2 separate regions of the Homo sapiens genome follow, and region 2 is linked to region 1. The links come from fine-mapping of genetic effects on gene expression. Tissue or cell type: spinal cord. Region 1 holds a variant in brackets; the other region holds the start of a gene. All regions are shown on one strand. Distances are between the middles of the regions.

Evidence for each region. PIP is the estimated chance that this variant, and not a neighbour inherited with it, causes the effect.
Region 2: it holds the start of GPC1, and the variant in region 1 is fine-mapped to the expression of GPC1 in spinal cord (GTEx, PIP 0.97).

What each region holds. Positions count from the first base shown.
Region 1 is chr2:240,189,699-240,197,801 of GRCh38, forward strand. No RefSeq gene overlaps it. Among named protein-coding and RNA genes, the nearest start is that of OTOS, 53 kb to the left of the region's middle. The variant G/A (reference allele first, on the strand shown) is at 3,416.
Region 2 is chr2:240,431,418-240,439,520 of GRCh38, forward strand. GPC1 (glypican 1) reads left to right here and starts at 4,246. Exons shown (of 9, transcript NM_002081.3): 1 at 4,246-4,667. The coding sequence starts at 4,502. RefSeq lists enhancers at 2,615-2,909, 3,309-3,885, 5,619-6,195, 6,247-6,748 and silencers at 3,715-4,374, 4,435-4,494.

The DNA of each region.
Region 1 (8,103 bases):
TCCTCCATCTCAGGGTATGGTGGTCAGGCAGACTGCACAGCCTGCGATTTATTCACCAGTCAAGGCCAAGTCCAGGGTGGAGGCTCAGGGCTTGGGAATGTGGGCAGCTCGGGTGTGGTGGGACAGGTGGTAGGGATGGCTGGGGCCTGGGAGAGCTTCACTCAGAGCTAGCTCCCTCAACGCCCCATAAAAGTGCACAGTACAGATGGGCTTGTCTGCCGGGCCAGCATTCCCCAGTTCCCTGTACAGGGAGCCTGTCCCTGCAGAGGCCACCAGGGCCTGGTTGGGCCTGACCTGGGCCAGGGTTCACATTCCCACCATACCCTCTGGCCAGAAGAGGAGAGGACACAGGTGTGCTGGGTTGGGGGTGGAGGCAGGCTGGTTCTGAGTAAGACAGGGCAGCCCAGTGTGAAAGGAAAATAAATCTTGGGACTCCCCAAGTCACTAAGCCAAAGGGAAAGGTCAAGATGGGAACTGGTTAGGGCAAACCTGCCTCCCATTCTATTCCTAAAAGAGATACCTACTAAGATAAAAAAGCTACACACCTCCCTCACAATTTGTCCACAAGGAAGTTCCTTGCAGACAAAGGACAGACAGAACTCAAAAGTCACCCTTCTGCTCACTGAGACGAATGCGTATCTGATTGCTCCCTTTAGAAAGGCTGATCAGAAATTCAAAAGAATGCAACCGTTTGTCTCTTTATCTTCCTATGACCTGGAAGCCTCCTCCCTGTTTCGAGTTGTCCCCGCCTTTCCAGACCAAACCAATGTTCATCTTACATACATTGATTGAGGTCTCACATCTCCCTAAAATGTATCAAACCAAGCTGTGCCCCATCACCTTGGGTGCATGTCGTCAGGACCTCCTGAGGCTGTGTCACAGGCGCGTCCCTAACCTTGGCAAAATAGACTTCCTAAATTGATTGAGACCTTTTTGTTTATAGCAGGGAGGTGGTGGAAGGCAGGCAGGGAGCCACCCTTCCTGTGGGTCTCCTGCTTTCCTCGGAGGCTGGAATGGGCAAGCATTTCAGCATCTTGGGGGAGGCAAGAATGCATCCAGGCTGAGGCCCTGACTTCTGCCCGGAAACTGCCACCCGCCCTCCTGGACGTGGCTCCACCTCACTCCAGTGACAATTACACATCTTTAAAACACTATTTTTTGGAAATTCTTTCCGATATAGGGAAAACAGTAAGATCTCAGAAAATTTTCTGATAAACCTTGACCCGATATATTGGATGAGCCTTTGAAATGAAAACAAACTGTTCCTTGAGAACATTTTACCCGTGGATATGATGTGGAGTCCACGGCCCCCATTCCCCACCCTTCCCATTCCCTCCCATCCCCCAAAGTCGGCGGCGGGGGTCTTGGGGCATCTGGGTGGCTCTGGGACCAGCCCACCCAACATAGGAGGGGTCACCCAGGGGTTCTAGGTTTGTCGCATCCCTGGCGGCTCACCCAGGACCCACGGTCATTCAAGCACACCATTCCTCATCCCCTCATTCAGCCGACACTTGCTGAGCACCGCCTTGGCGCTGGAGCAGTGGTTCCGGTCCATGCTGGTTGCTAGCGGCCTGCAGAGCAGCAGGGACAAGACAGCAGCTTCAGGGAAGACAGACATCAGCGTGTCAAGCGTGGGTGCCGTGGGGAAGGCAGGAAAGGCTCCCTGAGGGGTGGTGTCCAAGCTGAGAGCTGGAGTGGAATTCGGCAAAGAGAGGAGAGAGAAGAGGATGCGGGAGAGAGGCCCAGAGGAGGAAATAGACCTGCAAGGACCTCCCCTCCCCGAAGTCTGAAGCCATAGCTGATAGGCCTGCTCCACACCAAGCCCTTTCTCCTTTCCAGAGGTACCTGCGCACAGCCACCTCTGATATTTGTCATTCTCACCTCAGTTTATTCCAGCTCTGGTCATCCCTGTATGTATCACTCATGACAGCAGCCTCATCGAAGCTCCTGTCTCCTCTTTTCCCACCTGTGAACAGAAAACACTTTCTCCCCTTTCTCCCCTTCCCCTTCTTCCTTCTTTCTCCGTCTCTGTCATGCACAGCAGGCATCAGAATAGGGCTGTGGGCAGCCCTTTGCCCAGGTCAATGTGAAGGCAAAGTTCCCAAGTGCCGGCCACTCTGCACCTGTTGTCCTTTGAGGAGAGACCCCGAAGCCCCTACATGTCTACACGTGTCTCTCCACCAGCTGCCAATGTCTTCTGCTTTCTCCTAGAAACAAGTTTGGAGAAGGATGTTATTTTATTTCCTTGCAAATTCTAGTTTTGTTTTACACCTGTTTTACTGGAAATAGACTATTTTTTAAATGGACAATGGTGAGGATCCAGTAGCTGATACAGTTTGGCTCTGCGTGCACCCACATCTTGTGTTCAGTTGTAATCCTCAGTGTTGGAGATGCGGCGTGGTGGGAAGTGATTGGATTAGAGGGGTGGTTTCTAATGGTTGAACACCATACACTTGGGTGCTGTTCTCATGACAGTGAATGAGTTCTCATGAGATCTGGTCATTTCAATGTGTGTGGCATCCACCCCCCCACCACCTCCCGCTCTGGCCATGTAAGGCGTGCCTGCTTTCTCTTTGCCCTCTACCACGACTGAAAGTTTCCTGAGGCCTCCCCAGAAGCTGTCATGCTTCCTTACAGCCTGCAGAACTCTGATCCAGTTAAACCTCTTTTCTTTATAAGTTACCCAGTCGGAGGTATTTATTTATAGCAGTGCAAGAACTGACGAATACAGTCATGATCCTGTTCCTCAAAGCCAAGACATTGGAGTGGCCAACACTCAAGACTGCGAATGACCTTCAGGCACCGCCTGTGCATCCTTTATGGACCACACGGGTGTGTGCGCTTTGCACCGTGTGGCGACCTAGCATCAGATTGGCGCAGTCGTCTGAATATTTGTTCTCATATGACACAGCCGACTACAGAAGGATCTGCATGGATTTCTTTAATGGAAACTATTTGTAAAAGATAAGCTGTAAACAAAGGAAATGGTTTGGAATAAAATTGATCTTTGTTTATTGTTGTTGACACTGAGAAGTTTATATTACATAATTGTATACAACCATTATAAATAAACACCCACGAGCCTACCTCCCAGGTCAAGTCCTCGAACATGGCTAGAATCTCAGAACCCGCCAGTCCATCTCCCCAGATGCCCTCGCTCTCCACTGCCTGCCTCTCTCAATTCACAGCGGCACCCTGTGCCTGGTGGCAGCTGTCCTTTAACTTTTGGAACAACCACATCATTGTTTTTCTAAAGTTTTTCCACTTCCATTTGCATCCTGAAACAATGTGGCAGAAATTTTATATGAAAAGCTTCATTTCCTCATGCCTATAATCCCAGCACTTTGGGAGGCCAAGGTGGGTGGATCACTAGGTCAGGAGTTTGAGAACAGCCTGACCAACATGGTGAAACCCC[G/A]TCTCTACTAAATATACAAAAATTAGCTGGGCGTAGTGGTGCACGCTTGTAATCCCAGCTACTCGGGAGGCTGAGGCATGAGAATTGTTTGAACCCGGGAGGCGGAGGTTGCAATAAGCCAAGATTTCGCCACAGCACTCCAGCCTGGGTGACAGAGCAAGACTCTGTCTCAAGAAAAAAAAAAAAAAGCTTCATTCCTTATTTAATCTTTTGTGTCTTTCTTCTTACTCTCATAGATACGTTTGGGAGACGTATCTATGTGGAAGCATGTGATTATAGCTGTTTGTTTTTACTGCAGTATAATATTCAATTGAATATGCGCCCACTTTACCAGAACTAGATATTCACTCTGTTTGAGATTCCCATTTTTGATAATTGCACACAGTACAGCCGCGAGCATTCCTGTAAATGTACCCCGGGCTCAGGGCATGTGTCTCTGTAGGTGGATGGTCAGAAGTGCCATTGCGGGGCCATAGAGCCCGTGTAACCTCAATTTTTCTAGATAAAGCCAAAGCGATGTGCCCTCACCTGTGGTGTCTGAAACTTCCTTTCTCCAGCCTTGCAGCAGCTCATGTGTTGGCCTTTCAAATTCTAGCCATTCAGTAGATTGGTTGGAGGTGAATTTTTATTTTGTTTTCATTTGAAACATTTTCCATTGAGGTAAAATGCACCTAAAATAAAATTTACCATTTTAACCTTTTTTTTTGAGGAGTCTCGCTCTGTCACCAGGCTGGAGTGCAGTGGGGCGATCTTGGCTCTCTGCAACCTGACTCCCTGGTTCAAGTGATTCTCTCCCGAGTAGCTGGGATTAGAGTTGCGCGCCACCACACCTGGCTAATTTTTTATTTTTAGTAGAGATGGGGTTTCACCCTGTTAGCCAGGAAGGTCTTGATCTCCTGACCTCGTGATCCGCCTGCCTCAGCCTCCCAAAGTGCTGGGATTACAGGCATGAGCCACCGCGCCCAGCCTCATTTTAACCTTTTTAAGTGTACACTTTGGTGGCACTAAGTACATTCACAGTGCTGTGCAGCCATCACCCTCCATCTCCAGAACTCTTCATCTTAAAAAGCTGAAACTCTGCAGCCACTAAACACAGCCCCTGGCACTCACCATTCCACTTTCTTTCTCCATGAATGTAACTACTCCAGGAATATCATCAACAAAATCATGAAGCGGTAAATGTCCTTTTATAAATGGCTTATTTCATTTAGCATAATTCTTCAAGGTTCATCCATGTTGTATGATGTATCAGAATTTCCATCCTTTTGTAGGCTGAGGAATAGCCCATTTGCTATGGCTTGGATGTGGCTTGTTTCCACCAAAAGTCATGTTGAAATTTAATCCGCTGTGGGGCAGTGTTGGGAGTTGGAGCGTAGTGTTGAAATTGCATCCATTGTGGGGCAGTGTTGGGAGGTGGAGCGTAGTGTTGAAATTGCATCCATTGTGGGGCAGTGTTGGGAGGTGGAGCGTAGTGTTGAAATTGCATCCATTGTGGGGCAGTGTTGGAAGGTGGAGCGTAGTGGGGGGTGTTTGGGTCATGGGGTCAGATCTCGCATAAACAGATTAACGCTCTCTCTCCGGAGTGTGTGAGTGCTTGCCCTTCCAAAACTGGATTAGTTACCAGAGAGCGGGCTGTGGTCAAAGCGAGTCTGGCTTCCTCAGCTCTCTCTTGCTTCCTCTCTCACCAGGTGATCTCTTTGCTCATCCCCCCTTCCACTTTCCATCATGAGAGGAAGCAGCATGAGCCCCCTACCAGATACATCTGCCTAATTTTAGGCTTTGGAGCCACCAGAATCGTGAGCCAAATAAACCTCTGTTCTTTGTAAATTACCCAGCCTCGGGTATTCTGTGATGGCAACACAAAACGGACTGAGACAGCATGGTATGTGTGCTCCACACCTATCCACTCATTCCTCAGTGGGCAAGCGGGTTACTTACGTCTTTTAGGTGCTGTGAGTAGCGCTGCTGTGAACATGGGTGTACCAATATCTGTTTGAGCTCCTGTTTCATATTTTTGAGTATATGTCCAGAAGCGGGATTGATGGTGGTATGGTAGTTCTCTGATTAATTGTTTGAGGACCTTTTTTTACAGTTGCTGCACCATTTTACATTCTCACCCGCAGTGCACTGGGTTCCAATGTCTCCACATTCTTGCCAATGCTTATTACCTTCTGGGCTTGTTTGCTTTTGAGGGTTTGCTGTTGTTGTTTTTAACAGTAATCATCCTAACTGGTGTCCTGGGACTGGTGTCCCCGTAAGCAGAGCCTGAGACGAGGGTTCTTATTCAACTGACTCTCAGGAGACAGCAGGTGAATCAAGCAATAAGGGGCAGAAGCTGACCTCAGCTGGAGTTCACCTCAAGCCCGACTCCATGGGAGCTCTGGAGTGTGAATGCACCCGGGACTCGGCCCTGCTGTGAGGCAGGGGCTGCCCTGTAGTATCCTCATGCCAGCTAGTCCTTGTCCTTGGTCTGCCCTGGGTGCGGGACACAGCCCCTTGATGAAGTGGCTTCTGCTGGGCCAAGGGCAATTATTTCCAGGAGTGTCAGCTGTGAGTTGTTGGCCAGTACAAGCTGCTGCCAGGGGTGGAAATGGCAGCCAGTTAAGTGAATCTGAGCTGAGCATGGCAGTAGCTACTGCAGGGTGCAATTCTGTGATTGCCATCGAGGAGGCACATGCCCCATGATCCGTCTGCAACTGGACTTGTTCTCCGTGAAGTGTCTGTTCAAGCGTTTCCCCATTTTTCCATTGGGTTGTCTGGCTTTACGTTTATTATTTGTCTTTGAATATCTTTTGTCATTATGTGCATTGCAAATATCTTCTCCCATACTTTGGCGTACTGTTGACTTTTTAACCCGTAGAAGGAGTCGGTCTTATTAAAGACACCCTCCTCTTTCTTTGTGAAAGCCACTGATGAGATTTGGAGAGACTTCTCCCAACTCAATCTCTAAACAAACAGTCTTTCCACCAGCATGTCCACTTGAAAATTATGAAATCTGATTAAAATAAGAGAGAATACACTTCTCACAATACCTTCCACTGGAAAATCATAGTTAAAGTAATTCAGTGTGGTGCAGATTTAATTAAGATTGGATTGCGAATACTGGAAATGGTATTAGCATTCAGCATTTAGCCCCTGGAAACTCGGTGAATGTGACAGTTAAGATTTAGAGGATTTGAAATGAATTTTTTTGCAAGCTGGGCTTCCATGTGCCTATTAATTTGATAAATTTCGGAAGTTATTCACATCCCCTCTGATTTTCTTTGTTAAAATTGTCTCTGATGGAAGAGAAAAGCTCCCTCTTCCCGTGCTGCTTCTTCAGGCATAAGCAGAGAGCACAGGGCCTGAGCCCTGCCCCTAGCCAGGCCATTCCTCCTGCCTGCGCTCTTCTGCATGACCAGAAGTGGGTTGAATAGCAGCATTTACCCAGAACCCCACGGTGCAACTGTATTTGGAATAGGGTCTTTGTAGATGTAATTAGTGAAGAATCTTGAGACGAAATCATCTTAGATTTAGGGTGGTCCCTAGATCCAATGGCGAGTGTCCTTATAAGATGGGGAGAGACACAGACACACAGAGGAGAGGCCATGTGAAGACGGAAGCAGAGTTTAGAGCAACACGGCCACAAGCCAAGGAAGCCAGGGGCCACCAGAACCTGGAAGAGGCAGGAAAGCTCCTCCTTTAGAGCCTCTGGAGGGAGCACAGCCCTGCTGGCACCTTGATTTCGGCCTTGTGGCCTCCAGAACGGTGCGAGGATAATGCCTGAATCTGTTCTGGAGCTTTCCACACCCTACTGTGAACCCCTGCAGCCCACCTGCCTGTCTCTGTCTCCAGGCTGAAGTGCAGGGGTCAGGGGCTGGCTGTGGCTCTGCTCCAGGGCGGGGCATCTGGCTCACACTGGGCAGTTCAGGTGCACAGAATACCTTGCAACAGTGATCAGCCACTGCTAGGGGTGAGAATCCCACAAGGGAGATCCCACAAGGATCCCACAAGGGAGAGCCCACAAGGTTGGAGGAGCCTGTGCGGAAGCCCCCTCCACTCATGCTGGCTTTGAGTTTGCTGACGTCTTCAGCTGTCTGGTCCTCTGCTGGACCAGCTGGGACTGAGGATGGGGCTTCAGGGAGGATGAAATATGAACCAGCTGGCAGCTCTAGGACCTCCCCTGCCCCGGCCTGCCTCTGTTCCCAGCTGGGGCAGTGACTTGCCAGACGCCAAGAGTGCCCGAGACCAGACTCCTGCTGCCCACAGGCCCACACCCCATCCTGTCCTTGTGCTGGGTGTGTCCTTGGGTCTTGCTTCTCCTCTGTCCCTCCCTGCCAGCTGCTTGGGAACTGGCCTGTCTTCTGAGTTTGCCTGGACCCTTACTCCAGGCCTCTCTCTGTTCCATGCCCTGCAGCCCCAGGTCAAGCTAGGTCCACCAGAGTAGTGGCAATGCCTGATAGTGGAGGTGGATACACAGCAGCTCCTGGCCAGGCTCACAGTCTTCACAGGCTTCATGGTGCTGCGACAAGGAAAGGGGCTGAGCGAGTCATGCCCTGTCTGTGCTCATCACCATCCATCACTGTCCATCACCGCCCATCACTACTCATCACTGTCCATCACTGTCCATCACCACCCATCACTACTCATCACTGTCCATCACCGACCATTACTGTCCATCACCATCCATCACTGCCCATCACTACTCA
Region 2 (8,103 bases), 240 kb after region 1:
TGTGGGGTGCTTTGTCCTAACATAGCAGACAGTGCCGGAGTGCCCCCATCTGCTCCCTCTCCTCAAGGAGACCAGGCCAAGAGTCAGGGTGGGGAGGGGCAGGAAAACAGCCACAGGGAAGGCCAAACCCAGCTCAGCCCAGAGTGGAGTGTTTGGGGTCATCTCTTGCTACCAGGGTCCTCAGACTAGAGAAACAGGTGCCAGCTCTTGGAGGGGCCACAGGTGCATTCTTCTGACCCCACCTACCACACGGGTGACCCAGCCTCACTGAAAAGGCTTGCTCTCCTCTGACCTGGATAAGGGAGGCCAGCCCAGACTTCTGCTGATCAAAAGGACCCAGCAGAGCAGAGCAGGCTCCAAACAGCTTCACCTTCAAGTTGACTGCCCCACGGCAGGGGCTTGGAGAGAGGTGGAGGGAGGTGCAGGTATGACCTCCTTTGAGAATAATGGTGCCAGGTTTTCTCAGTCCTGCAAACTCTGCCCAGCTGGCGCCCTTGTCCACCCACCCTCACTGCCCAGTGGCAGCCCCTAAGTTGGGGAAGCCAGGGCAGCCCTAGGGTTCAGACTCAAAGCCGAACTCCTGTAGATTAGGGTCCTGGCTCAGGGCTGGAAGACCTTCCAGGGTACCACTGAGTGTCCAGGCAGAGCAGGGACCAGCACCCCACCTCACAGACCCCACACGAGTACAATCCTGCAGGGTCGTCTGGAGCCGAGCTCCTTCATGAGATGACAGCGGCTCCCTGAGCCAGCACCAGAATGAGAGACCGGATGAATGTTCCCCAAGTGTCACCACCAAAAGGCAGGGCAGGAAGCACGGGGTGAGCTGGAGGTGGAGTCCATGGGCCAGAGCAGGCCCTGGGGCAGATCCCCTCCCCATCGCTAAGCCCTGTAGAGCTGCCCAGAGCCCCGCTTCTTTCTGGCAGGCACCCTGATTACCATTTGCAGAAAGATCTCCAGCTCTGCAGGCAGGCTGTCCTGCCCACCCTGCTCTGCCCAGGGCTGCCAGCCACTCCTGGGGACCATGTTCCCTTCATCAGCCACATGCTGGGGTATCCACTTCCTCCTTCAGGCTGCTGCCCAAGGGGTCCCCAGACCCCCACAGAGGTGTGGGGACCCTACATCCTCCACTATGCCCCAGGGCACCAAAACACCTCCTGGGTGCTCTAACAGATCAGATGCCACATCCCAGCCAGCCCTAGTCCACGCCCTTGAACCCCTGCTGTCTGCAGGCACACGCGCGCACTCCTGCCTCCCACGGCCAGTAGGACAGGGCTCTCGTAGGTAGGGATGCTACAGGCAGTGACATTCACAAGAAGGCAGCCATGGATGGCAGCGACAACAATCGCTCAGTCTGTTTGGAAACTTACTTTTGGAGTCTCCGAAAGACAATCCCTGAAACCAAACAGAAAGGGAAGCTGTCCGTCCATGGCAGCGGGCAAGGGCGTGCACACTCACGAGGGTTCCACGGAGCAAAAGTAGGATAATTTCTGGGCAGACCTGCCGTCCGAACGGCTGGGAGCTGCGGGCCCCCCGGCGCTCCCTGTGTCTTCTGAGCAGAGACCAGGCTCAGCATCCCGCAGACCCCCACCCTCCCTAGGCAGAGGCAGGAGTGGGCCCTAAGCCAGCAGTACACGCCCTCCAGGACCTGGGGTCCTCCACAGAAGATGGGGGCATGGAAGGGAGGCCCCCACGCCCTGGCCCAACAGGCACTGCCTGCCTCAGCCCGTCAGACAATGCTAAGTGTCCTCTGCCCTCACTGCACCTGTGGAAGAGCAGGTCCAGGCTGCGCCACACGCCCACTCTCAGGGACAAACTTTTCCTCTCAGGTGTTTCCTCACTTGCTCATTCATTCCTTCTTTGTGTCGCATACGTGTGCCCCCACTGTCTAGCCAGGCAAAGACACCAAAGCAGGAGGGGGTGGTCTTGGTCAGAGCCACAAGGGTCACTGTGGTGGCTGGGATTCGAGGCATCAACTATGTCCTCAAACCCATCCACGTGTCCTGTGTGGAGCGGCCCCAGGGACAGCGGTGGAAGAGGGGGCTGATCAGCCTTGCCCATCCTCCCAGAGTCCCAGTCTGGACCCTGCACCCGACTAGCACGGGCAGCCTGGCGGCTCCTGCCCTGGTGACAGCGGGCGTGTGCAGCATTGCCAGGAGGGAAGCAGGGGTAGCTGCAGCTGCTCAGGATCCTGCGGCTCCTCCCAGGTGCAAACACGGCTTTTGCTTCCAATGCCCCCGGCGGCATGTGCATCCTCTCCAGGGAAGGCCCTGGCTACAGGTCTCCTGGCCTGCGGAATGGGAATGATTCCAGGACCTGCGATGGTGGTAAGGACTTCCTTAGGAGATGAAGCCACCCAGGGGTCACCAGGGCCAGGCAGAGGCTGCCACCATCGCGTTCTAAGCCCTGCTGTCCACACTGCCATCCAGAGGCCCAGAACTAGGCTGGAGGAAGGACTTGCCTGGAGGAATAACCCAACCTGGTCAGATTAAGAGGAGGCGTAGACAGTGACGGGGTAACTATAGAGCCTCAGGCCGGGTTAACCTCAAGTCCAGCTTCCTAGGCCCAGGCAGCCCTGCCTGATCCCGCAGTGCGTGAGACCACACAGAGAGAGAGCGGGATCGTGGGCCCAGGCTCCTGACCGTGCTGGATAAGGTGTGCAGGCAGCCACGCCAGGCCCAGGCAAGAAGGAGCAAGCCTGGAGCATGTACTGAACAGGGGTCTGTGAGTCACAAAATGTGACGCAGCAGAGGGTATGTGGGGGAGGGCAGGGAAATGCACACTTGGATTGGGTCCCCAAAGCCTCCCTCTCCAGCAATGACTCAGTGTCTCTGGGTGAAGGAGCAACCTTCTCTGGGAGGCAGGGCAGGAAACCCCAAGAGCCCAGGGGGAGGGCACCCCACCTTCCTGCTCCAGCCCCACACAGCGGCTGAGAGCCCCAGGCACAGAAGGGGTAGGGAATGTTGCCACCACCCCCACCACGGACCCCGCTGCAGCTTCCAGGTGATGCCACAGGCCCTGAAATCAGGACACCCTTGCTGTACATGGGGGTCATCTTGAGGTTCTCTGCCAAGGATACTGACCTCTATGCCTGCCCCCAATTCTGCAGCTCAGGCACCTGGCTTCACCGCCAGGCCTTACCATGTGGAGAACAGGGGGCCGGGGTGGGGGGTCTGGGAGCCAAGGAAGGAGTGAAGCCCTCCAGACACCAACATCGCAGTCCTCGCCCCCTCCCTACAGACCCCATCCAGCCCAACTCCCCATGTGCAGCTAAAGCCACGCGCCCTCCTACCATACAAGGTGCAGGCAGCCCTCCCGCCTTCTTCAAAGAGGCATCTGCTCCGGCTCACTCCACCCTCCTCCCCCAGTGGCCTAACTAGTCGCCGGGTTCCAACCCTATCCCTTCTCCAGAGGTCATCTGGCCCCACCCAGCAGCCCAAACCAGTAGACCGGCCCTGCCCCATCACTTTGGTTTCTCCAGCATCCAAAGAACGTGGAGGGTCACCCCCCCAAAACAGCTGTCAAGGTCCAACAATTAAGCCATCTGTTGCCGCTCCCTGGGACTGGGAGAGGTGAGGTCGAGTTTCTTGGCGAGTTTCCTGCGTGCAGCCCCCACACCACAAAAGCCCCCGGTGCGAGCCGGAGCCCAGCGCGAGACGGCTGGAAGGGCGCGGGGAGGGAGCCGCTGCGGGGTGCAGGCGGGGAGAGGGGCGGCGGCTCGAGGCGCGGCCGGCGGGCGGAGGGTACGGAGGCGCCGGGAGAGCGTTCTCGGGGCGCGCTGCCAGGGTGCAGGAAGCCGGAGCGCGCGGGAGGGAGCGGGGAGCGGGATGCCGATTTCGGCTGGGGGCGGGGAGGCCCCTGATTGGGGCGCGGGAGGCGTGATGTCACGTCCGGCGGGGGAAGCCCTGCCTCGCGCACCCTCCGCCCCCGTCCCCGCCCCCACAGGTGGTGCCACCGCCCTGGGCGCTGGGCGTGGGGGGCCGCCCTCGGGGACCCCGGCCGCGGCCCCGCGCTGCCCGGCTCCGCCGCCTCCCGCCGGGGATCGATAGAGTCGCGCGGCCAGGCGGGCCCTCTGGGTCCCTAAGAGCCAGAGGAGCGCCCAGTGCGCCCCGGCCCGCGCCCCCGCGCCGCGCCCCGCCCCGCCCCGCCCGGTGCTCCCAGTCCCTCCCCCACCCCTGCGCTCCCACCCTGCCCCGCCCCTCTCCTCTCCCGCGGCCGCCTAGGGGCCGGGCCGGCGGCGGGGGAGGCGCCGAGCCGGGACTGCGCTAGCCCGCCGCGCTCTGGGCTGCCCGAGCGAGCGTTCGGACCTCGCACCCCGCGCGCCCCGCGCCGCCGCCGCCGCCGGCTTTTGTTGTCTCCGCCTCCTCGGCCGCCGCCGCCTCTGGACCGCGAGCCGCGCGCGCCGGGACCTTGGCTCTGCCCTTCGCGGGCGGGAACTGCGCAGGACCCGGCCAGGATCCGAGAGAGGCGCGGGCGGGTGGCCGGGGGCGCCGCCGGCCCCGCCATGGAGCTCCGGGCCCGAGGCTGGTGGCTGCTATGTGCGGCCGCAGCGCTGGTCGCCTGCGCCCGCGGGGACCCGGCCAGCAAGAGCCGGAGCTGCGGCGAGGTCCGCCAGATCTACGGAGCCAAGGGCTTCAGCCTGAGCGACGTGCCCCAGGCGGAGATCTCGGGTGAGTGAGGGCGCGGCGCCGGGAACCCGGGCCTGGCCGGGCTTTGGGCTCCGGACCCTGGTCTTCCCGACGCGGCTACTCGCCCCCGGCGCGGGATCCTGCCGCCTGCGCCCCGCCGCCCGGGCCCCGAATGGCTCCCTGCGCTGCGGCTCCTCTGCAACCCCACGGCCCTCGCCTCCAAGCCCCGCGCCGCACTCCCTCGCCAGGGTCTCCTCCGCCCCGCTCGGTCGTCCTCCGCCCCTCCCCGCCCCCCGCACGCCGGCTTCTTCCCTGCGGAGCTGATCTCGCCGGGCTGCGGGCTCGGGGCGCTCCTCCCGGGCCACGGCTGGAGCTGGGCGTCTTCTGCCCGCCGCTCGGCCCAGCGCGCCTGCAGGCCGGGAGTCCCAGCCCCGGGGCCGGCTGTCGGGGCGCTGTGGGGCTCGGCGTGGCCGGGCTTTCGGGGCGCCGCTGACGGTGGCCGCGGACCCCTTCTGCTCTGTACAGACCTCTCTGGGAGGCGTCTCCGGTCCTGCCCGGGGATTCTCGTAGGGTCTCCAGCAAAGGCAGCCTAGGTGGGTTTTATAAGCTGACCCCCTCGGGGGGTAGTGCGGAGGGGTGGGGAGGGAGCTGGGCACTTATCCGCGGGCGGAACGCCGCCGCCTCGTAGAGATTCCTGTCGAAGAACTTGTACGCGCCGGCCCCCGCCTGGCGCTTGGGCAGCCTCGTGCCGCGAGTCCAGCTGCAGGTGGTCGGCGCGTTGGATCCCGCCCAGGGGCCGTGTCATTTCTTTGTAAGAACAGCGGCCCTCTTGGCGCCCCCTAAGCCCTGCAGCCGCCTGCGGCTCTGCCTCTTCCCTCCCTGTGGTCCCGGAGGAGCTTTGGGGACAGAAGTGTACGGGTGGGTGGAACGGTGGGCTCCGTGTGCTAAGGAACTCTTGGAACCCAAGCTTCACCTTTCCACGTGTGGGAACCAACCTCGGTCTGTACCGCGTGCCAGGGACCCAGTGGGCAAGAACAAAACAGACTAGGTTCCTGCTCTGGGGGGCTCCTCTGAAACCAGGGGAGTGGGAGTGCGGGTGGAGGGCTACTCAGATGGGGACTCAGCGCAGAAATGCCCATGGTCCTGGGGATTCTGAGCAAGAAGGATCCGTGCATCTGGGTGAGGGGGGTCTGTGGCCATGCCTTGCCGCGGGGGGCGGAGTGGTGGGAGGAGGCAGTCGGGCTCTGGACCCCTGCCCCTCCAGGAGGAACAGAACCCACAGACAGCCCCTTGCCCTTGGTGGATCTCCCGATGCCCCCAGCCTGAGGTTCTTGTAAGGGCCCCCTGACCGCCCCCCACAGAAGGAACAGAACCCGCAGACAGTCCCTTGGCGGATCTCCCGATGCCCTCCCCACCAGCCTGAGGTTCTTGCAAGGACCCCTCCAAAGTCCCCAGGACAGGCCTTCCTGTGCCTCTGCAGAGGCAACCCTGTCATTTCCAGGCTGCCCCCCTCACCCCACTGGGCTCTGTCTGTCCCAGGTAGGGGGCACACCTGGATGCCAGGCAGCACAAGGCCCTCGGCACAGTTGGGTTCGTTCTCTGCCCCTCTACTCACACATAAAGAGGCATCCCTGGCCTTCCTGGTGAATCCCTCCCCAGGCACCAGGGTAGCAGAGTGGCTGAGTGGCTGCCCCTCCCAGCCCAGAGTCTTGAACCCTGCTCCTTTGGAAACCATTAGCCCCCAGCCCTTCTTAGCACCTCCATGTCCTCTGGGCAGTTGCATCCTTAGGAGCCAACCTAACCTTCCTTGCATCCACAGGCCACTGTTGCCAGTTAGAGAGACAGAGTGGCAGAGTTTGGCCATCTCCCAAGGGTGAGAAGAGAGGGCAGGACAAGATGGAGAAGTTGATGTGGGGCTGGGCCAGAGAGTGTGGGTCGTGCTGCTCTTGGGTTGGGGAATGCAGTGGGTTAGGGACCCAGGACAGGCAGATTGTGTTGATTTCTCTGTGTCTGATGGGGCAGGGGATGCTGTCCACCCCGCGTGGGGAGTACGAACGCCCTGCAGCTGTCTAACCACGGTGCCAGCCATGGGCCAGTGCCTGCTGCCAGGGCTCGGGGTGCCACCCTCCTCCAGACTTGCAAGGCCAGGACTGCACTGGGCAGGATTACTGCCTCTCCAGTCGGTGCCCCTCCGACAGGAACCTCTCTCCCTGCACCCCCTATGGCTGCAGAAGTGGGGAGTAACCTTCGGGACCCAGGGTACAGAAGACAGTGTGGGAGCCACGTGGGCTGAGGGAAACAGGGTGACTCCCTCGGGTCGCAGCAGTCCTGGGGCAGCCAAGCCCAGTGTCCCCTCCTGCTTTGTCGGCTGGGCCTGGGCTCCGTGGAACGGGCGCCCTCTGGTGGCCCCTGGGCGGCAGATCCTCCCAGGAGCCCTGGACCCTCTGTGGCCTAGTAGGCACCATTCTCAGTCCCCTCTCTCCTGCATCCAGACTTCTCCAGGGGGACCTCCTCAGAGGGAATGCGAACCCCCTGGGGTTGGGCACCTCGCTGGCCCGGAGCAGGTGGGGTAGAGATCTGATACTTCCTCGTGGGAAGGAGAGCAGTTGGCCCTGGGTGTGTGGCGGGCCTTCCCAGCCTCTGCCCCAGGGACCAGAAAAGGCAGTGGGTGACAGGAGACTTAGCTCATGAAAGAGGGCAGTGTCGGGACATATTGGGCTCCCTTTTGAGACTTCCTTTGTCCTCTGGACAGCCAGGCCAGGCTGCAGTGACAGCAGTGGTCATCCCATTTTATGGGCAAGGAAGCAGGCCTGGGTGCCACCAGCTGGACGGTGGCACTGCAGCAGGGCACCCGGCCACCCTCCCTTTATGCCAGGGCACGGCACAGAAGGCAAGGGCGGAGCCGAGTGGCACCCCGGGTGCCCCTGCGCTGCCAGGAGCCCTCATGCTGAATCACTGCCCGCGTGCCAGCAGGCCTCCTGCTTTTGCTTGCAAGGTTGTGTCTGGGCATAGGTGTTCCCAGAGCACCTGTCTGGCCTCCTGATGTCTGATGTGATGTGATGTGTGTCTGTTTGCTCCTTTGCTGGGGTCTCAGCGCCCCACCTTGGCACCTGAGCTCCCTGGTCGCTGGGACCACCTCTAACTGTTTCCCTGTTGTAGCCACAGAACCCGGCTGGCTCCCGGCCCAGGATAGCTTCTCGGAGGACACCCCCAGGCCTTCCTGGCTTTATACCTGGCTGTGCTGGGTGGGGAGCGGGACATGGAGGGTAGAGGAGGGTCTCCTTGGAGCAGACACCCCTGTTCTCAGGGTCTCCCAGCCTGAGGCAGAGGAGGGGCCCTAAGGTCTAGTTTTGGGGGCAGAAGTCAGAGTGGGGCATGGGACTGTCGGTGGCACAGAAACTGCCCAGCCGCTCCTGTGCCCAGAGTGGCAGCCCGCCTACCAGCTGGAGCGGGCACCAGCGTGCCCTGGAGCCTGTAC